Homo sapiens: one gene and its partners. The protein of the gene in region 1 purifies or fractionates together with the protein of each later gene. This does not show direct contact. Each region holds a gene or a part of one and is shown on either strand. Other genes may lie near its edges.

What was found. The genes of interacting proteins can lie anywhere in the genome.
Region 2: the proteins of UPK1A (region 1) and ALG9 purify together in Homo sapiens (affinity purification with mass spectrometry; 2 studies listed by BioGRID and IntAct, with this or other methods). This does not show direct contact.
Region 3: the proteins of UPK1A (region 1) and SLC29A1 purify together in Homo sapiens (affinity purification with mass spectrometry; 2 studies listed by BioGRID and IntAct, with this or other methods). This does not show direct contact.

The regions. Positions count from the first base shown.
Region 1 is NC_000019.10:35,661,153-35,670,107, reverse strand, and holds the start of UPK1A (uroplakin-1a), read right to left. Parts: upstream 3,592-8,955; 5' UTR 3,570-3,591; intron 3,300-3,569; 5' UTR 3,296-3,299; coding exon 3,212-3,295; intron 2,161-3,211; exon of another isoform or gene 1,655-2,160; coding exon 1,454-1,654; exon of another isoform or gene 1,423-1,453; intron 1-1,422. UniProt on the Homo sapiens protein: Component of the asymmetric unit membrane (AUM); a highly specialized biomembrane elaborated by terminally differentiated urothelial cells.
Region 2 is NC_000011.10:111,780,907-111,785,005, forward strand, and holds the end of ALG9 (alpha-1,2-mannosyltransferase ALG9), read right to left. Parts: 3' UTR 1,289-4,099; downstream 1-1,288. UniProt on the Homo sapiens protein: Mannosyltransferase that operates in the biosynthetic pathway of dolichol-linked oligosaccharides, the glycan precursors employed in protein asparagine (N)-glycosylation.
Region 3 is NC_000006.12:44,226,171-44,234,382, reverse strand, and holds the end of SLC29A1 (equilibrative nucleoside transporter 1), read right to left. Parts: intron 7,374-8,212; exon of another isoform or gene 7,344-7,373; intron 7,124-7,343; coding exon of another isoform or gene 7,070-7,123; coding exon 7,041-7,069; intron 4,994-7,040; coding exon 4,912-4,993; intron 4,795-4,911; coding exon 4,592-4,794; intron 4,477-4,591; coding exon 4,337-4,476; intron 4,037-4,336; coding exon 3,902-4,036; intron 3,816-3,901; coding exon 3,718-3,815; intron 3,573-3,717; coding exon 3,494-3,572; intron 3,020-3,493; coding exon 2,922-3,019; intron 2,386-2,921; coding exon 2,277-2,385; intron 2,041-2,276; coding exon 1,955-2,040; intron 1,577-1,954; coding exon 1,377-1,576; intron 967-1,376; coding exon 855-966; 3' UTR 241-854; downstream 1-240. UniProt on the Homo sapiens protein: Uniporter involved in the facilitative transport of nucleosides and nucleobases, and contributes to maintaining their cellular homeostasis. Functions as a Na(+)-independent transporter.

The DNA of each region.
Region 1 (8,955 bases):
TCCCAGTGCCTCTAGGTCTTTGCTTTCCCTGGCAGTGAGGTCTTCCCTCGCCCTCCTCGGCTCCTGACCTCCCCTCCTGTTCACTGTCTTCCTCCTCTGAGCACCACTTCCCTGGGTCAAGGGCTTTTATGTTTCGCTCAGCACAGAGCCCCAGTGCCCAGCGTAGGGCTCAGCATGTAGCTCCTGCTCATAAGCATTTGTTCATCAAATGAGTGGCTGCTTCTGGGAATCTGAAAAACCCTCTGCTGTCGAGGAAACACAGTGCTGTCTCTGTGTCATTGGGGCCGTGAATTGGAATCCCTGCTCTCCTGGTCACCTGGGAGAGGCTGTTAGCCTCTTTGAGCCTCAGTTTCCTCATCTGGTAAATGGGTTGAAAAGCACTAGCTGTGAAGGGCTTCTGGCAAGATTGAGGAAGCTCATTTTCTTTCCTTTTTTTTGAGATGGAGTCTCGCTTTGTCATCCAGGCTGGAATGCAGTGGTGTGATCTTGGCTCACTGCAACCTCTGCCTCCCGGGTTCTAGTGATTCTTCCGCCCCAGCCTCCTGAGTAGCGGGGATTACAGGTGCCTGCCACCATGCGTGGCTAATTTTTTTTTTTTTTTTTTTTTTAGAGATGGGATTTCGCCATGTTGGCCAGTCTGGTCTTGGACTCCCGACCTCAAATGATCTGTCCGCCTCAGCCTCCCCACGTGCTGGGATTACAGGCATGAGCCACTGCGCCTGGCCACGAAGCTCATTTTCTAAACTGCTTACCCTAGTGTCAGGTGCATGAGAGACACTTGGGAAGTATGGGTTATTCTTGTGGGCAGAGATTAAGAGCACAGCCTCAAGAGCCGATCTGCTCAGGTTGAAACTGGCTCTGCCATTGTCTCAATGTGTGACCCTGGATAAGTGACTTCACTTCTCTGAGCCTCAGTTTCAATCTTCATCAAACAGGGTCATGATGATGACAGTATCTCTTGGTGGACTATGAGGAATAAATGAACTAATCCAGTAAACCATTTAGAACAGCTCGTGGCTTGTAGTAAACCATTATTAAATGGTAGCTGTGCTATTATTGGCAGAGTTCATGAGCATGGACTCTGGAAAGCAGCTAGCAGGGGTTCAAATTCTAGCCCTGCACTGGGTGCAGGTAGAGGGGCTCAAGCCTGTAATCCCAGCACTTTGGGAGGCTGAGGCAGGAGAATCATTTGAGCCAGGAGTTTGAGACCAGCCTGGGCAACATAGTGAGACCCCCATCTTTACCAAAAAAAAAAAAAAGAAAAAATCCCAGCTCTGCTACTCAAGCCTGGGTTATTGGGCTGTGGGAAGACTGAATGAGATGATGCCTGGGATCCCTGAGTGTGACACCATGGGGAACTCACACTAGTGGCTGGGGCTGCACCTGCTACTATGACTCAGTGATGCTGAACTCCGTTTTCAGTGTCCCCATCCCCCAACCCCTGGAGTCTCACCGTGAGGACCATGGACCGGCGGCGGCAGAGTGCGGCACCCACACCAAAACTGGCTACCATGAAGAAGGAGAAGCCGCAGAAGATGGCAATCCAGGCACCAGCGAAGACGTCATCCTTGCCTGAGACTCCCATCAGTGGGTATACACGGTACTGGTCGGCTGTCACCCATATGGTCTCAGCAAACAGGGACAGGCCTGACAGCTGGACAGAGCGGTGGGTTAGGAAGGTCTGCTCGGGGCCAGCAGCCCTGGCACCAGGCATCTCCACGAGCAAGTTCCCTCCCCATTTGGAGCCTCCACTGCCCTCTCAGTAAAGTGGGCAAAGACCTCGCCTTCCATGAGCAGCGATGAGGGTGAGCAGAGGCCAGGAGAGAAGAGACAGCCCAGCCAGACAACCGACCCCCACGCCCCAGCTGCCAGTTTCTTCGGGGATAAAAGGGGATGCCACGTGGAAAGGCTGGAGCAGTGGACTGGCACAGAGGAGATGCTTGGTCCATCTGCCCTCCCTTGACAGTGCTGTTATTCCCCGAGGAGGGGAACATGGCCATGGCCATAAACATTACAAATGGGCCAGGCAAGGTGGCTCACACCTGCAGTCCCAGCATTGTGGGAGGCCGAGGCGGGAGGATTGCTTGAGCCCAGGAGTTTGAGACTAGCCTGGGCAATAGTGAGACCCCGTCTCTACAAAAAATAAAAAAATTAGCTAGATGTGGTGATGTGCACCTGTAGTCCCAGCTACTTGGGAGGCTGAGGCAGGAGGATCAGTTGAGCCCAGGAGTTGGAGGCTGCAGTGAGCAAGCATCACACCACTGCACTGCAGCCTGGTCAACAGAGTGAGACCCTGTCTCTAAAACAAACACACGGCCAGTCGCGGTGGCTTACACCTGTAATCCCAACACTTTGGGAGGCTGAGGTGGGCAGATCACCTCAGGTCAGGAGTTCAAGACCAGCCTGGCCAACATGGTGAAACCCCATCTCTTCTAAAAATACAAAAAGTAGCCGGGTGTGGTAGCATGTGCCTGTAATCCCAGCTGCTCGGGAAGCTGAGGCAGGAGAATTGCTGGAGCCCAGGAGGTGGAGGATGCAGTGAGCCGAGATCTCGCCACTGCACTTCAGCCTGGGTGACAAAGGGAGAATCTGTCTGAAAAAAAAAAAATTAGCCGGGCGTGGTGGTGTGCGCCTGTAATCCCAGCTATTCTGGAGGCTGAGGCAGGAGAATCACTTGAGCCCGGGAGTTAGAGGTTGCAGTTAGCTGAGATCAGCCACTGCACTCCAGCCTGGGCAACAGAGTGAGACTCCGTCTCAAAAACAAAACAAAACAAAACAAAACAAAACAAAACAAAACAAAAAACACAAAACCAAAACCCAATGTTAATTGAAAGACACTGTTGTTTTTCCTTCTTGTGGCCTCCTGTGCACCAGGCTGTCACTTTATATCCATAGTGATGCTGATGGTGATAGCCAGCATTGGTCGGGCACTTTCTCTGAGCTGAGGGCCACACATGGATTAATCCACATGACAACAGCCCACACAATGAGGACACAGTCTATAGATGAGGAAAGAAGGCACAGAGAGGGACAGTCGCTTGCTAAGGTCACAGAGCTGGGGAGAGGCAGAGCTGGGATTTCAACCCAGGCTGTGCTGACCACTGAGTCTGCCCGAGAGACAGTTCTGGACCCTCATCCCCCACCCCGAGCTCAGGACTGTCCCCTCCCCACCACACAACCACTCGGCTCCCAGCACTGGGGCGAGTCTCACCAGAATAATGATATTGCCCACAACTAGCAGGCCCACCACAACTGGAGATCCCTTCTCGGCCTCCGCTGCTGCCGCAGACGCCATCATCCTGGGACACATGAGCAGGGATGAGGCCAGGAGCGTAAAGGGCCAGCCGGACCCCCCATCTCTGAGCCACACCCTGGCTTCGAGGGGTTGCTCCAGCTCTCTGCGGGGCCCAGGCTGGTACTGATGTACCCACAGCCCTGGTGGGGAGGCATTTTGCACAAGAGGACACCCGGGCTCCGGTGGGGCAGTCACTGGCCTGAACTTGGCACTGCCCCTCCCTGAGCCTCAGACCCCTCATGCCATACCCAGACTCCCAGGGCCCCCTCCTCACCTTCTCTGTCTGCAGCCTCTCTGGCCAGCCCCACCCACCGTGGCTCCCTATATACGCCCAGGCCCCTCCTTGGGCTAGTCTCCCAGGAAGGAGGGAGGGTGTGTGTGTGTGTGTGTGTGTTTTGGGGCACGGCAGTGGGGTGGACAAGAGGCTGAGCCGGCAGACCAGGCTGGATGAACAGCTTTGATGGGCTCCCTGCCACCCCCATGATTTATAGACCTGAAATACCAGATTGTGTAGGACCCATGGCCTCTGGGTCCCAGGCTTTGTTGGCGGTGGAGGAGTTGGAGGTGGAGGGGCGTGCGCACCACCTGGTGTCTCTCTTGCTAGGACATGGGCCTTCCTGGGAATAGGAGCAAGATCCAAATCAGGGCGGGGCGTGGTAGCTCAGGCCTGTAATCCCAGCACTTTGGGAAACTGAGGTAGGCGGATCGCTTGAGCTCAGTAGTTTGAGACCAGACTGGGTGACATAGTGAAACCCCGTTTCTATAAAAAATACAAAAATAATTAGCCAGGCTCATGCCTGTGGTCCCAGCTACTTGGGAGGCTGAGGTGGGAGGATGGCTGAACCTGGGGACAGAGGTTGCAGTGAGCCAAGATCGTGCCATTGCACTCCAGCTTGAGTGACAGAGCCAGGCCCTGTCTCCAAAACCAAACAAACAAAAAATCCACTTCGGACCCACAGGTGGGTCCTGAATCCCAGAAGTGTCTCTCCTGCTGTGTGACCTTGCACAGGTGGCTGCTCCTCTGTGAGGCCGGGAGCCCGTGGGGAGGCCCAGGCAGGGACCCCTGCCAAGGCCAGGGCTGGACCGAGGCAGAGCAGTGGGGAGATGAGGGGACAGGTGGAAGGGGCGCTTAGGAGGCTGACTACATGGGCGGTGGGCTGAGGGAAAGGATGGCACCCAGGATAGGTGTGTGAGGGGAGTCTGAGATAAGTGCAAAGATGGGGGAGAAGAACGTGCTAGAAAATGAGAGGGGGCACACCGGGCTTGGTTGAAGAAAAGTCCCCGTCGCCCCCCAACACACGCATGGACCAGACATTTATTTCTTCAGGTGCAGAATGAGAAACCTAGGTTCAAATCCCGGTTCTGCCTCTTCTGGGCGGCACGACTTGGCTTGTGGATTTGCCCATCTGCGAAATGGGTATCATCAGACCGCTTCCCTGGCGGAGGTGGGGACTGAGCCAGCGCGTGTCCCCAGGGGCCGCCGATGCTGCCCACGAGGCCACGGTCTCTCCGATGCCACGCCCTCGCAGCGCAGGGCTGGCTCCATGCAAAAATGGTGGCCCAGGGCCCCCGACACCGTCCCCAGAACTTCTCAACCCCAAGGCTAGGCCGTGTATTGCCTCTGCTGTGGGAGCAGTGGCTCCCCACTGCGGTGCCTGCGAATTTGGCAAATGACACTGAAAATCCCATCGTCAAGGCACTGGTTTGGTAATAAGATACATGAGATGTTTTCCGATTAAAATGGTTAATTTGGTTTTAGTCAACCCACTTTAGATTTTAAAATAGTTTTTTTGGCCAGTCGTGGTGGCTCACGCCTGTAATCCCAGCACTTTGGGAGGCCAGGGTGGGGGGATCACCTGAGGTCAGGCTGACTAACATGGTGAAACCCTATCTCTACTAAAAATACAAAATTAGCCAGTCGTGGTGGCAAGTGCCTGTAATCCCAGCTACTCAGGAGGCTGAGGCAGGAGCTAATCGCTTGAACCTCGAAGGCAGAGGTTGCAGTGAGCTGAGGTCGTGCCATTGCTCTCCAGCCTGGGTGACAGAGTGAGACTCTGTCTCCACAACAACAACAAAAATCTGTAAAGTGTTTATTCAAGAAAAGCAGCTGAATCTTAGTAAGAGCAGTGAACTTTATGACTTTTTTAAAATTTATTTTTATTTTTGTTTTCTTGAGACAGAGTCTCACTGTCGCCCAGGCTGGAATGCAGTGGCACGATCTCAGTTCACTGCAACCTCTGCCTCCCAGGTTCAAGCAATTCTCCTGCCTCAGCCTCCCGAGTAGCTAGGATTACAGGCGCCCGCCACCACGCCCGGCTAATTTTTATACTTTGTGACATTTTTAATTGGCCTAGTTCCATTCCCCCATTCCAGCTCCATGGTAGCCTTGAATATTAACTGCCAGCATTCTCAGTGGAAACTAGCAGCCTGGCATACACCAAACGGGGCAGAAGAGGATGAAACTCCATAAAAGCCTCACTCCCAGAAAGTCAGAATTATTTGATTCGTCTTATGGTTCCCTGGAAGCCCCTACTTGCAATGTTGTCTGTATTTGACCTAACTTAGAGCTCATACATCGTCAAAATTATTTCCCCAGGGGCATTTGTGAAACACAATTGCATGCAATTGTTTAACTAGGCAGCTGCCTAAGCAATGAATAACAGTTGAGGCCAATAATAGGCTAATGAAACAGTTTAAAAGATAAAGCTGGGGAATGAGAAGGCTTTGAAAAACTCCAAAATATTCTTGGAAATCTAGAAGGTCACATGCATGCATAGGGTTGTGTGCATGCCCAGGAGTATATGCAGGCTCAAGAAAGACCAGAGATGAGAACCCAGTCTTCTTACATTGGGCTGACCTTGAGGATGTGTGCCTTCCTGGGAGAAGTAGTGGCGAAGGCAGAGTTGTCAATTGCCTGGCTGAATGTCGAAAGCATGGCCCACCATGCCTCAGCAAAGGCTAGGAGATTATTGGTTTTTGGAGGCTAAGGAAATCTTTGTCCAATCATTAGCGGAACTAATGCTAAAGAATACTGTCTTTTTTTTTGAGATGGAGTGTTGGCCAGGCTAGTCTTGAACTCCTGACCTCAAGTGAACCTCCCACTTTGGCCTCCCAAAGTGCTGGGATTACAGGTGTGAGCCACCATGCCTGGCCTAAAAGCAGAAATTATTTTAAAAGAACTAAACAGAAACTTGGGACTTGAAAAGTACAGTAACTAAAATGAAAAAATTCAAATGGGCCAGGCGTGGTGGCTCATGCCTGTAATCCCAGCACTTTGGGAGGCCGAGGTGGACAGATCACGAGGTCAGGAGATCGAGGCCATCCTGGCTAACATGGTGAAACCCTGTCTCTACTAAAAATACACAAAATTAATCAGGCATGGTGGTATGGGCCTGTAGTACCAGCTACTCAGGAGGCTGAGGCAGGATAATCACTTGAACTCGGGAAGTGGAGGTTGCGGTGAGCCGAGATCGCGCCACTGCACTCCAGCTTGGGCGACAGAGCGAGACTCCGTCTCAAAAAAAAAAAAAAAGAAAAAATTCAATAGAGGAATAGAGGGTTCAACAACAGATTTGAGTAGGCAGAAGAAAAGATCGGTGAACGTGAGTATAGATCAGTTGAGATGATCAAGTCTAAGGAACAGAAAGAAAAAAGCACGAAGATAAGTGAACAGAACTTCAGAGACCTGTGAGACATCATCAAATAATGGGAATCCCAGAAGGAGAGGACAAAAAGAAAGGGGTAAAAAAGAATATATGAAGAAAGAATGGCTGAAAACTCCCAAAATTTGATGAAAAAAACCATCAATCTAGAGCCAAGAAGCTCAATAATCTTCAAATAGGATAAACTCAAAGATATCCATCACCAGACATATCATAATCAAATTATTGAACGATAAAAAGAGAACCTTGAAAGCAGCAACTGACAAGTGACCCATCACGTATAATTAATCATCAATAAGATTAACAGCTGGGCTGGGTGTGGTGGCTCATGCCTGTAATCCCAGCACCTTGGGAGGCTGAAGCGGGAGGATCACTTGAGCCCAGGAGTTGGAGATCAGCCTGGGCAATATGGGCAAACTCCATCTCTACAAAAGAATACAAAAATTAGCTGGGTGTGGTGGCATATGCCTGTAGTCCCATCTACTTGAGAGGCTGGGGTGGGAGGATCTCTTGAGCCTGGGAGTTCAAGGCTGCAGTAAGCTGTGATCAGGCCACTGCACTCCAGGCTGGGTGACAGAGTGAGGTCTTGTGTCAAAAAAAAAATTAAAAAAAAAAAAATAATAAAATGAGAAAGATTAGAACATTTGGAAAAAATGCAGGCTGGCGTGCGGTGGCTCAGGCCTGTAATCCCAGCACTTTGGGAGGCTAAGGCGGGCAGATCACCTGAGCTCAGGAGTTGAGACCAGCCTGGGCAACATGGTGAAACCCCGTCTCTATCAAAAACAAACAAACAAACAAAAAACTAGCTGAGTATGGTGGTCTATGCCTGTGGTCCTAGCTACTTGGGAGGCTGAGGTAGGAGGATGGCTTGAGTCTGGGCGGCGGAGGCTGCAGTAAACTGAGATTACGCCACTACATGCCAGCCTAGGTGACAGAGTAAGACCTTATCTCAAAAAAAAAAAAAAAGCTGAAAAGGGGAATTAAATATATATTTCCAAATCTGCCCGCATGGAAATTACATTCCAGTGGTGCAATGATGAAGGATAACATTTGGCATGTTAGCGGTAAGTGCTTAAGAAACAAGGCCAGGTGTGGTGGCTCACACCTGTAATCCCAGCACTTTGGGAAGCCGAGCTGGGTGGATCACAAAGTCAGGAGATGGAGACCATCCTGGCCAACATGGTGAAACCCCGTCTCTACTAAAAATACAAAAATTAGCTGGGCGTGGTGGCGCGTGCCTGTAATCCCAGCTACTTGGGAGGCTGAGGCAGAAGAATCGCTTGAACCAGGGAGTCTGAGGTTGCAGTGAGCTGAGATTGCGCCACTGCACTCCAGCCTGGTGACAGAGAGACTCCATCTCCAAAAACTAAAAAAATAAATAAAAATTGAAAAAAGAGAAAGAAACAAAAGGAGTGAAGGGGCACAAAGATGGAGGAGCTGAAGGTGAAGGCTGAGTGGTCAGAGAAGGCCTCGCTAAATGAAGACCTGAAGGCAGTGAGGGGTGAGCTTGTGGACAGCTGGTGGCCAAACATTCCAGGTCGAGCAAACAGCAAGTGTAAAGGATCCGGGGTTGGAGCCAGCCTGGTGTGTCGAAATACATTTGCTCACAGTTCCTGTGCACTGAAGAGGCCAGTGTGGCAGGGGCTGTGTGAGCAAAAGGGCACCATATCCAATCAGATCAATATATTTACAAATACTTCTAGATGCATGAGCTATCTCTAAAGGAATGTACAGGAAACACTGGCACTGGTGGCAAACCCTGGGCAGAATCAGGCAGCTGGACTCAAGGAGTCCAGCACCTTGACTTTTCACTGGCCGTCCTGTTTCATTTGAAATTTTCATGGTGTTGGCTGGGTGTGGTGGCTCATGCCTGTAATCCCAGCACTTTGGGAGGCCGAGGTGGATGGTTAACCTGAGGTCACGGAGTTCAAGACCAGCCTGGTCAACACGGTGAAACTACTCTCTAAATCGCTACTAAAAATACAAAAAATTAGCTGG
Region 2 (4,099 bases), on another chromosome or scaffold:
GGGTCGCATGGTTTATATGTTACGGTTCTATGCCATTATTAAGGACACTGGGTAATCAAGAAGGCTCAGAAAAGAATGTAATCAAAGAGTCTGAAGTCTAGAAAGCCTTCTTAGAAAAAGGAGACTCAGCCCTAAAAGTAACAGTAACAAATAGGGAGAAAGATGACATTCTAGACAAGGGAAAATAAATTAAAGTTGTGGACTTCTCCTTCCTGGAATTACACTAATAAAAGCATCCTTTCTTCAAACAATTTGGGAGAAATAAATCAAACCAAGTTAAGGGCATCTGGGGTCCTATAGGAAGAATAATAATAACCAACGGCACAACACCAGATGGCTGCTAGAAGTTATAGGGTATAAAGTCCATGGCATAACAAGGACATTAGGAATTCATTTACAAAAAAAAATTTATTCCAGCTGGGTGCAGTGGTGCATGCCTGTAGTCCTAGCTACTTAAGAGGTTGAGGCAGGAGGACTGTTTGTTGTTTAAGGCCAGCCTGAACAATGTAACACATGCCATTTCTAAAATATAAAAATTAAAAAAAATTTATTCCTTCTGACAACCCCAACAAAGGGGGAAATTACCTAAGTGTTAGATATAACTGGATTAGGATTTCTAAGAAAATTAGACTCTCACAGTCCAGTGATTCTCATTCCAAAAACTTAAGATGGATCCAGGACTTCATCTCTTTTAGGTACAATGTTCATGTATTGAGTAATTCCTTTTAATTTTTATTCATTTTTTATTATTTTTTTTTTAGATGGAGTCTCACTCTTGTTGCCCAGGCTGGAGTGGAATGGTGCAATCTTGGCTCACTGCAACCTCCACCTCCCAGGTTCAAGTGATTCTCCTGCCTCAGCCTCCCAAGTAGCTGGGATTACAGGCATGCGCCACTACGCCCAGCTATTTTGTATTTTTAGTAGAGACGTGGTTTCACCATGTTGGTCAGGCTGGTCTCGAACTCCTGACCTCAAATGATCCACCCGTCTCGGCATCCCACAGTGCTGTGATAACAGGCGTGAGCCACTACGCCTGGCCCATATATTAATTCCTACTGTGCGTGGTTTTAACATAGTTAAAATAAAACTAATCCTCACTGGGTTTCCCAAAGTCTTCTTCTAAAGTTTTCAGAATAAACATTCTGGGATATTTGGCCTGTAGAAGGCAGGTCTCCACACTGAGGAATAGGGCTGGAGTCAGGGAGAAAGGACTTGAGCTCCTTCAGTTTCCAATTTCCAAGAAAGATTTAAAAGCAAAAGAGAAAATGTCACATTAAGAAAAAGAAAATCAAACTGCTACAATTTATTTAACTCTTTCTTTCACAGGAAATATAAGTATGTAATGTAAACACCGACACGTGAAATAAAGTACAAGGATCAGGAAGACAAGTGAATTGGACAATACTCTTGCTTTAACACTTTACTGCTTCCTGATTTCATTTGCAGCATGAATCACCTGGTTATACAGACTGGCAGAAGGCAACATTCAGATTTACAGATACACCAGAAAGCCTCTGAAATCCAACGATGCCATACGGAAGTCTGATCTTTCTGTTGCAAAAAAAATTAAAGCTGGGCACATGTCCATTTATCCATTTACCCAAGGCATTTAATGTAGGAGCATAAGAATGCACTGATTAACACGTGAGCTTTAATATGCTTGTGGAGGCCAAGATTAAATTGTACCTCTTCTCCCTCTTCAGAGAAAATAAAATTAACCAAATTAAAAGCAGAGCTGCCTGATACTAGCCAGAAGACTACATAATCACAGTGAATTCTTATTTCAATAAATCCCAGGAAATGCAAAACACAATAAATGATTGCCACTGGAGCTTTGCCCAAATGGTCACCGTAGACCTCATGCTGCAGAATCATATCAGGTTTTCAAGGTTCTTTCCTAGAACTCCAAAGTTGGAAAAATGACCCAGATAAATGATTGGGATAAAGACCCATCATGATTTAAAACAAAGGGTCTATTTCCAAACTTGAATTCGGTAATAAAGAGTATGGGCTGCAATTTTCTGTGATTATCTCAAAAAATTAAAATAACCTGTCTTCTTTCTTATCAGATGACACCTACCAGGTAGGAGGTAAATTTTGGTAGCAGATGCCTACCGTGCAGACTGGTTCAGTAATGGTACTCAGCATCACAAGATTTGGGGATTCAGATAAGGCTGCTTTAGAGCTAGAAATCAGAGAACCATGCATTTGCCAAGTATACCTACTCCCTCACTCACCCCATGATCAAAGGCTATTAAAAATTATCTGGGCCGGGTGCGGTGGCTCATGCCTGTAATCCTAGCACTTTAGGAGGCCGAGGCGGGATGATTACAAGGTCAGGAGTTTAAGACCAGCCTGGCCAACATGGTAAAACCCCACCTCTACTAAAAATACAAAAATTAGCTGAGTGCGGTGGTGGTGTGTGCCTGTAATCCCAGCTACTCAGGAGGCTGAAGCAGGAGAATTGCTTGAACCCGGGAGACAGAGGTTGCAGTGAGCTGAGGTCGTGCCATTGTGTTCCAACCTGGGCGACAGAGCAAGACTCTGTCTCGGGGAAAAAAAATAATAATCTGTAGTCCCACATCCCTCTATACTCCACAATCTATGGAGAAATAAGTATCTTGCATGCTTCCTCCTTTTGGCAAGCAGAACAGTCAGTGCAGGCTGAACACTGCTTTTTTGAGGGAGAACTGCTACTCTGAGCAGGTGTGTTGAAACTGTTTTTCCCAGGCAAAGCTATCCTTCCTATACTAAAAAGTGATGGAGATTTTTTAAAATGTGTTTATAAAATATCACATGAAAACACCTTCACAACAAAAAACATTCATTTCTATATTCCTTACCTATAACATTTGGCACAGCGTTCTGCCATGTATTGTGCTCTCACTAAAGACATACATAGAACAGAGAGATCCAAAATCAGGTTTTAAAAGTGATAGGAACTGATATTTCCAAGGAATCCCTGCATCAGTCCTGGCCTTTCTTTGCGCTATATTATAATTAAGGTTTTGTTTTTTTAAAAAAAAAAAAAAACAAGATGACAAAACAGATAAAACAGCATTATACTACTTTGATTAGAAAAAAGCCATTCATCACAGATGGACCTCCATTCCTGGATTCTTATTTACCTCTGGGAAACATAGAGGGCCTTAGCTACTGTGAAGAACAGCACATTATTACTGCAAGTAAGGCAAATGTTTCACTTAAAATTCTCTGTCCTGTAGTCAGATCATATGTGCTAGTTTTACACTGGAAAATAGTAATCAAGAATTGAGAATTAAATGCCAGAGATCTTTCAAGCAAGGGGGAGCCCAGTCTATCCTCACACACTCCCCAGTTATTGTTCTGTACTGTCTAGACCTATTACCTCTCCAGCGCTTCAACTCCGTCTCTGATATTCCTGCAGAGGAGATCTCAAAGAGGAGCTTTTTAATATTGTAACTAGCCATTTCTTCTGTTATCACTTCTTTTCTTCTCTCTTGGCACCAGTTCCTATTAGAATGCCCTTCTCTTTGAAAATGAAAGATGGGGCTGGGTGCGGTGGCTCACGCCTGTAATACCAGCACTTTGGGAGGCTGAGGCGGGTGGATGACCTGAGGTCAGGAGTCCAAGACCAGCCTGGCCAACATGGTGAAACTCCAACTCTACTAAAAATACATAAATTAGCTGGGCATGATGGCGCATGCCTGTAATCCCAGCTACTCGGGTGGCTGAGGCATGAGAATTGCTTCAACCTGGGAGGCAGAGGTTGCAGCGAGCCGAGATCGCGCCACTGCACTCCAGCATGGGCGACAGAATGAGACTCTGTCTCAAAAAAAAAAAGAAAAATGAAAGATGGAACTTCTGAAAAATAGATTCATCCTATTTGCAGATATTCAGATCAGTTACCCTTAGGGAAATAAGGCACCTATAATGTGACCCCAGATTGACTACAGGAATAGTACTGATATTTGGATCCTGTGTGGCTGCAAAAGAACATGACTTCCAAACAGAAGCACTACTTTCCTGCCACAGGTCAGGCTGCATCACACAGCACTGCTGTGCTGGTCTAACACACAGGCAGACTGGAGGCTCCAAAGAACTCAAATACAGACACAAT
Region 3 (8,212 bases), on another chromosome or scaffold:
AGTCTTGGCTAACAGTCTTGGTGTTCTGGTTCCAGGCCTGTCCCTCCCCTGTGGCCCCAGCAGGGGGCATTGCAGCCCCTCTGAGGCCAAGAGGACTACTCCCCCCTCCTCCCCCTTGGACCCAGGTCCAGTCCTGGCCAGGGCCCAGCTGGGTCATGCTCATCTCCCAGACTCAGGCTGCCAGCCCTCTACCCACTCCAGGGCATGAAGCCACGGCTGGAGGACACAGGGAGCCATGGAGAAAAAAACAAGAAAGGTTTATTTAAATCAGAGAGCCTCTGAAGGCACCTGGTTTCTGTCAAATATATTTTTAAAAAAGGCAGTAACGTGGCAACTGTACAGGGTGCATGATGGGTAAGAACTGGGCATGGGGAGTTGGGAGGGGGACATGGAGAGAACACAGAGGAGGAGGCGCAGGGGAGAATGGAGTATATCAGGTCAAACCATACAACGGTCAGACCCAGCTCCTAGCCACCCCAGGACAGGCAGACAGTCTGACAGACACGGACGCAGACACACAGACACATACACAGAGACACACGTGTTCTCCAAGCCCAAGAGCCTCCACTGGCCTGCACAAGCAGGGATCAGTCAGAGCCAAGAGTGGAGAAACTCAAGCAAATGCCGAGGCTACACCCCGTCCCTCGACTCTGAGCCCCAAACCCACAATGTCCCCACTGTCCGTCCAGAGGCTCCCTCCCCAGGGCCTGGAGATCCGGGCCCAGCACACGCCGTGGAAAGCAGAAGTCAGTTAGAAGAAAAAACCGCCAGACCACTCAGGATCACCCCTGGCAGAAGGAAGGGGCAGGAGGCAGACAGGGAGGGAGGCAGGCAGTCCTTCTGTCCATCCTTTGTCACACAATTGCCCGGAACAGGAAGGAGAAAACAGCCCCCAGTGCCAGACCCAGACACAGGAAGAAGGCCATGATGGCTCCTGCGGTCTCTGCCTCAGCTGGCTTCACTTTCCTAAGCGGGGAAGGAAGGGCAAGGCTACCTCAGAATGGCTGTACCCCAGCCCAGAGCCTCTGGGTGGAAGGAGGGGTGGGGTGGAGCAACTTGACTGTCGAACCTCATTCTGTTGATCAACCCATCCTGGCTGCCTAACCCCAACCTGGCTTCTCCTCCTTGAGGGAACGTGTATGGTGGGGTTGTCTTTCACTCCTTCCTGCAAACCTGTCTCCACCTCCACCCAAGTAAGCTTGGCGCCCCCCTCCACTACAGTCACTATCCCCTCAGCCTGGGAGCCCCTCCTGAGCCATCTCTCCTCTCAGCTCTGGGAGCAGGGACTCTCCTTTTGCCCTCCCTCTACTGAGTGTCCCCCACTGGAACTCTAGATCCTGTCTGATGCCACCAAGTTCCCTGCCAGCCCTACTCACTTGGGCCCGAAGCACATGCAGAGGCTGGCGAGGTAGCCGTTGGAGAAGGCAAAGGCAGCCATGAAGAAGATGAACCAGGCATCGTGCTCGAAGACCACAGTCAGGTAGCGGCGGGGCTTAATGTTGCACAGCAGCAGCAGTGGCACAAACACCAGCCGGGCCAGCACCAGGCTTGGCAGCCAGCGGCTGTCCTTCCCAGGCTGTGGGCACCAGGCAGGGCCTCAGCCCAGGCCGCCACCCCAGGGCACAGCCAGGCCCCCAAGGATCCATCTGGGGCCCCTCAGGATCTGAACTGAAACCTCAAAGCCTGGTTCTCCTTAGGGGGTTACTCTTGAAAGGGGCATGGTGGAGCCTTCTGGAGTGCTGGAAATATTCTACATCTCGATCTGGGCAGGTATGTGTATATACATATATTCATTAAGTTGTACACTTAAGACTTGTACTTAACTATACATAAATTATGCCTCGACTTTAAAACAAATGGTCCCCTTACTACCATACTTTCTTGGGTTCCCTCTCTGGGTCCAGGCTGGACTCTTACTTCCCACAGGGGCCTGGGGCCCTCTTCCTCCACTTACCCACATGAATACAGCTGTGAGGCTCCGGCCCAACCAGTCAAAGATATTGAAAGTCAAGAAACAGGACACAGGAATGAAGTAACGTTCTGGAAGAGGAGATGAACGGGTGGTTATCAGGCTCACAGAGGCAGGTATAGCAAGCCTAACCTTCACTGGGCCTCAGCTTCCCCAACAGTAAAATGGAGAAGATGCTTCCAGCCCAGGGAAGGGCAAATGGACCCAGGAAACGGGGAGAAGGTGACCCAGGCTCCCTCCCTTCCCCACTTCCAGCCCAACTCAAGATCCTGTCTGTTCCCATCCTGGAAACCTGTGGCATCCTCACCCCAGGTGCTGCTGCCTGCGATGCTGGACTTGACCTCAACAGTCACGGCTGGAAACATCCCAATGGTGATAGTGAAGATGAAGCAGACAGAGAAAGCCAGGACTGAGATCTAGATAGAAGGGGTAGAGTCACCCAAATGCCTGTGTCTTCATGGTGGCTGTGCATTAAAGAACCACGAATCCAGGCCAGGCGTGGTGGCTCACGCCTGTAATCTCAGCACTTTGGGAGGCCGAGGTGGGTGGATCACCTGAGGTCAGGAGTTTGAGACCAGCTTGACCTGGTGAAACCCCATCTCTACTAAATACAAAAAATTAGCCGGGCATGGTGGCATATGCCTGTAATCTCAGCTACTTGGGAGGCTGAGGCAGGAGAATCACTTGAACCCAGGAGATGGAGGTTGCAGCGAGTGGAGATTGCACCATTGCACTCCAGCCTGGGCAACAAGTGTGAAACTCTGTCTCAAAAAAAAGGAACCACGAATCCCCACCCCCGGCACGCACGCATGGGCACGCACGCACACACAAAAGAATCCAGGAGTGACCACTCTCAGGTCAGAAAGGGAGGAGATGGGTGGCAGGGGGAGGGAGCAAAAGGAGGAGAGAAAGAGGACAAGGGGTAGAAGATAGGATAACCTCCCCTACGTACATTTTTCAGGATGGCTTTGATAGAGTGGCTTTCATTGGTGGGCTGAGAGTTGGAGACTGAAACTCCAGATTCCTCTTTGCCTGCTCTTGGCTCCTCTCCTGCGGGATGGAAGAAATCTCCAAGTTGTGGGGAAGACAGAGCAACAGAAGACAACATAAACATTCCCCAAAACGGCTGGGATTACTTGAAAGTAGACGCCTCCTTAACCAGTCCCAGCCGTACTCTAACCCTAACCCAGACCTCGCCTCCAAATCCCTACAACTCAAGACCCGGGGGCCTGGCCTCTCCCAGGAGCCTCAGGTCATGTTACTCCTCACTCAAGAATCTGAAATTGCTTCCCACTGCCTTTAGTCCAAACACCTCAGGCATTCAAGGTCATCCAGGATCTGCCCCCATTTTATCATTGCCGGCCCTTATTTCCTATTGTCCCCCTCTCCCTGCTGTAGTCCTTCAGTCCTCCTCTGGCTCAGGGCTGCTAGCTAACACAGGGCACTCATCTTTGTTCTCTTTGCTCATGCTATCCCCCGCCTGGTATACCATCCTCCACCCCAGCTTCCTCAGGCTCTTCGGACCTTTGCTAATGAGGTCCAACTTGGTCTCCTGCTCCCCGGGTCCTTCAAGCTTGAGCTGCTGGTAGTAGCGGTAGAATTCCTATCAAGTAAGGGAGACGGGGGAGGTGGATTTAGAGGCAGAATCTCCAGAATCCCGGCCTCCTTCAGGTTTTGTCCTCAGAACACCCGTGGTCTGGAACCCCAGACCCCTATACCCCAAACCCCAGCTCCCTCCATTTACTCACCAGGCGGGGCAGGCCCAGGTAACAGATGATGGTCAAAATGATAACAGCACAGGCTGTGATAAAGTAGCCGAAGGCACTTTCTGATAGCTCCGAGCCACCTGGGGTGGTGTCAGTGATCAGAGACAGGCCCCATCCCCTCTCCCCACCACACCAGGGCACTGGGCAGGTAGATAGCCGGACTTACTGGCAATAGCGCAGATCATGGCCACGGAGGCAAAGAAGCCTGCTAGGCCCTGGCCACTCATGATGGGGGCCGTGTAGCTGGCAGGCAGAAGGCCAGCCAGACCAAACAGGCTGCCCTGCAGGATGGCACCAAATGCTGGGGAAACAGGGCGGGCATGAGCAGGGGAGCTAGGGCTGGTGGTTGGGGGTGCCCAAGAAGACAGATCCCTGTCATTCCTACTTTACTCTTGGTGAGCCTTGAGGCTGAGCTGCCCTTCTCTCTGCCCCCTCCCAGCCCTGGTCCAGGCCCACTCAGGCCTCTGAATCCCAGCTGCTCACAGCATCCACTCCCTCCAGGCGGAGGCTGGGCTTCTCTCTGGCTAACGCTGGGTCTGAAAAAAGAGTGGGGGTAGTTGGGCATGCCTCCTCCCATAGGCCCCCTCCTGGCCCAGCTTACAATTAATGAGCACGATCTTGATCATGGTGATGACAAAGAAGGGCAGAGCATCCAGCTGCACCTTCACCAGGATGGCAGTGATCAGAAACACCAGCAGGATGGCCACCAGGCTGCCCAGGATCCGTACGGACTGGGGGATCCTGCCGGGAGAGGCCAAGGGTGGCAGAGACAAGTGGGCAAAGCTGGGGCTCAGCCAAGGGGGTGCAGGACACAGTGAGGGTCAGGCTGGGGGCTGGGGAGGGGGTGGGCACTCACCTCTGATGCAGGAAGGAGTTGAGGTAGGTGAATAACAGCAGGGGCAGCATGGCACATAGGGTCATGACATTGTTGAAGATGGCACTGAGAGAGTTCCGCTCAGGCAAGGGTGCTGCAGGGGCGGCTGACGCCTGGGCGTCCTTGCTCAGTTCAGCAGTGACCAAGGACACATTCTGGGACATGTCCAGGCGGTTTGTGAAATACTGCAGGGGTTGCAGAGAGGAGTGTTGAAATCTCTTTCCCTGTGCCTACCAGCACAGAGTCAGATCCTGCAAGCACAGTGGGCACTGCCCCATGGAGCCCAGTCCCTCCAGCCTCACCTGAGTGGCCGTCATGAAAAAATTCCACGGGAGCAGCGTTCCCAGACCCAGCATGAAGAAGATAAGCCAGACAGCTTTGTATCTGCAATGGAGGAGGAAAGATGGGCCAAATGACGCACCATCCTGCCCCACTCCACAATGAGCCCCAGGAAAGCCCCTGTCCGTTGTCAGTCTCTCTAGGTCCCAGGGCACAGGGCGTCTGTGTTTGTGTCCGTTTGCATGTGTCCTCTTATGGGTGTGGGGGGAGAAAAGGGTACATTGCTCGTTGGAATTTGGGGTGGGGATGGGGTCAGGGTCATAGGACTGAATGGCATGGCTGACAGGACCATGGTTATCAGCCCTGGAAGGCTCGGGGGACTCTGCAGGCTGGGAACCAGTGTGACCCACACATCCGGAGATGGTTTTGGAAATCCTGCCGAAGGGCAGGGGGTGGGTGGATGAGTGAGAAAGCAAGCAGCAAGTGTCTTCCACTCCCACCAGGCAGGCTGGAAGTAATTATGCTGTCTGGTCAGGGACTGTGTTACTCCCCAGAGAGGATTCTGAAGTTAAGAAACTCCCATACTATTCTGGACCTACAGGGCAGGTGGGCAGGGTGCCTCAGGGCCGCTGTGAAGAGAGGGCCTTAGAGCCATTTTCTTCCTGGCCAAATAGAACTTTGTAGTTCATACCACCCAGGGCAGGCCAGGAGGTATGGGGCCACTGGAGGCCATCTGGGCCTCAGGGTGTAAATAAGGACTGTCCACCTTTGGCCAGGGCAATGCCCCAAGCCCTATACCTCAAGGCCCTTCCGGGTCACGCCAGCTTCTCCCAGATAGGCCTTGCCTGAAAGCTGAGTAACCCCAGCCCGGCCCATGTAGATCTCCAGTTGGGTTTGCACACCCTCCCCAGAGCCAACACCAGCTCTCTTCAGAGATGGCAGGGATAAAGCCCAAGGCAGTGAGAAGACAGGCCTGGCCAGAGTGCAGGAGCCTGGACCGCTGGCAGGCCTCATACAGGGATGGCGTGGTGAGCACACCACGTGAGCAGGTCCGAGTTAATGCAACTGCAGCCCCCCCAACCCCCTCACATACATGCTTCCCTTGGAGAAGCTAAAGGCTTGGTTCGGAGGCCCAGAGCAGAAGGAAAAACTCCCAAAGTCACATAGGACAGAGGATCGGGGTTGGGGGGAGTACGCTGGGAAATGACTGAGCTGTGCAATAAGGCAAATGGAGCCGGCGAGGCCTTCAGGGAACTGCCCACAGGAGAGCGGAGGTGGGGACAGAATGGGCAGGCAGCCTGGGAATGGAGCACAGGAGGCAGGGAAGCAACCTGGGGCCTGGACTTATTGCCATGCCTCCTTAAATTCCCTTACTTCTAGATCCACTTCCTGGGAAGTAGATACTTTTAGCTTATTTTACAGGTGGAAAAACAGTCCCAGAGAGATTAAGCTACATGCTCAAAGCCCCCACAGGCAAAAGTGGCCTAGTTTCATAGCCTTTGGCACAGGAGGGAGATGGGGTGGGTAGGGCAGACGTGATGGGTTTCTGGGGCCTGAGTTGGAGGGCAGGACAGAGCCTGACGCTTTGAAGGAGCTTTGGATCTCAGGGATCACTTCCTCAGCCTTCTTGGGTCCCAGATCCCTTTGAGAAATTGAATTAAGCTACAGCCTCTTCTTCCAAAATACATATTCACAGTCATAACTGCAAGTCTAACTTGACTGGGAGTTCACAGGCTCCAGAGGCAGGGAATTGAGAGGAAGATCAGATCAAGAACCAGGGTGGGCCAGGTCATCTAAGGCAGAGGCCCCAGGGCAGTTCTGCCAGATGTGCATTGGAAGGAGGGGTGCAGCCAAGTATCTCCCCACAGTGGTGGCGGGAGGAGCCGAAAGCCGCTAACTGGCTGGAGAGCAACAGTGGAAACACAGACAGGCCAGGGAAGGACTGCTGCCCACGCACCCTGCCCTTCCCGCAGACACCCCAGCCAGCACCCAGCCAAGGCACACGGGGTCCCCACCCCTGATGCAGACCTGACTCATAGCTACCTGGCTGGAAGGCCAGCCAGCAATGGCAACCCCCAATTCCAAAGGACACCACACCCAGCTCCCTGAAAACCCATTCCCTGGATCCACAGCCCAGCCCCTTACCCCTTACCTGTCCTGAGGCTGGTGACTGGTTGTCATGGTGATGGTGTTCTCGGTTTTCCCTGGCTGACAGCTCCCTCCCTCAGGGGCCTGCTGGGGGCAGGAACAGTGTGAGGCCCTGTCTTGGCCCTGCCATAGGCCTCCTCAGGCTCTTAGGGGGAGAGGGGGCAGGGCTGACAGAACAGGCCAGTGGAGGAGTCCAGTAAGACCCCCTCTGCACCCTGCCCCTCAGGACGACTCAACTTGACCCCCACCCAGCCCCCTGGCCCAGCAGGCCAGTCCTGCGCGGCCCCCCTGCCTGCTCAGACTCTACCTGGCTCCCGGCCTGGCCGCTGCCACCGCTATTTTTATCCAGCAGCCGAAGCAGTTTATAAGCTGGGAAACAGGAGGGTGGAGAGCAGGAGGGAAGGAGGAGGAAAGATGATGGGAGGGAGGGAAAGACAGTCAAAGAAGGCAGGCAAGAGGACGAGAGGGGTCAGGGACAGTGATGACAAGGGAAGGAGGGAGACAAATGGAGGAGACACAGCAAAGAGGTCGGGGGAGGAGGAGGAAGGACACGGAACAGGCAGATCTGCAGCAGCTGCGACAACATCGATGATGACTGAGGTCAAACCAGAGGCTCCCCAGGCCCCTCTCTGCAAGTCTGGTCTCTCCACCCTCCCTGGGGAGCCCCTGGATTCATGGCTAGAGTGGGGCTGTCCTCTCCTGAAGGCAACCCAGATTCCAGTCTCTCTGCTGTTGGCACCTTAACCTTTCTTTCCAGCCACTGCCCAGGGGCTTCCTAGTTGCTGGCCGGTTTTCCAAGAAAATATTTCATAATGGATGTGGGGGCACAGCCCTTCCCCCTCCCCCCTCCCGACCCCAGGGTCACCTAGTCCTCCCTTAGTTCCTCTCTGTCACAGGCTCCTGTCCGCTTCCCCTTTCTAAGAGTGACCTTGAAAAGAAGATTGGAGGGGTGGATCCCAAAGCACCTATCCTTCTGCCTCAGCGTCCCTCTCCTGCTCCCCATTTGTGTAGGGGGAGACCCCCTGGCACCAGCAGATTAAACAGCTTTCCCATTGGGTGGCATGGGAAGCCAGGCAGATGTGCACTGACACATTCCCCACACTCAGGCCTAGCTGGGCCCAGGCCTTGCTGTTTGGGGTGAAAGGACAGCTTCCCTTCCCTCCCTTTCTGGGCACT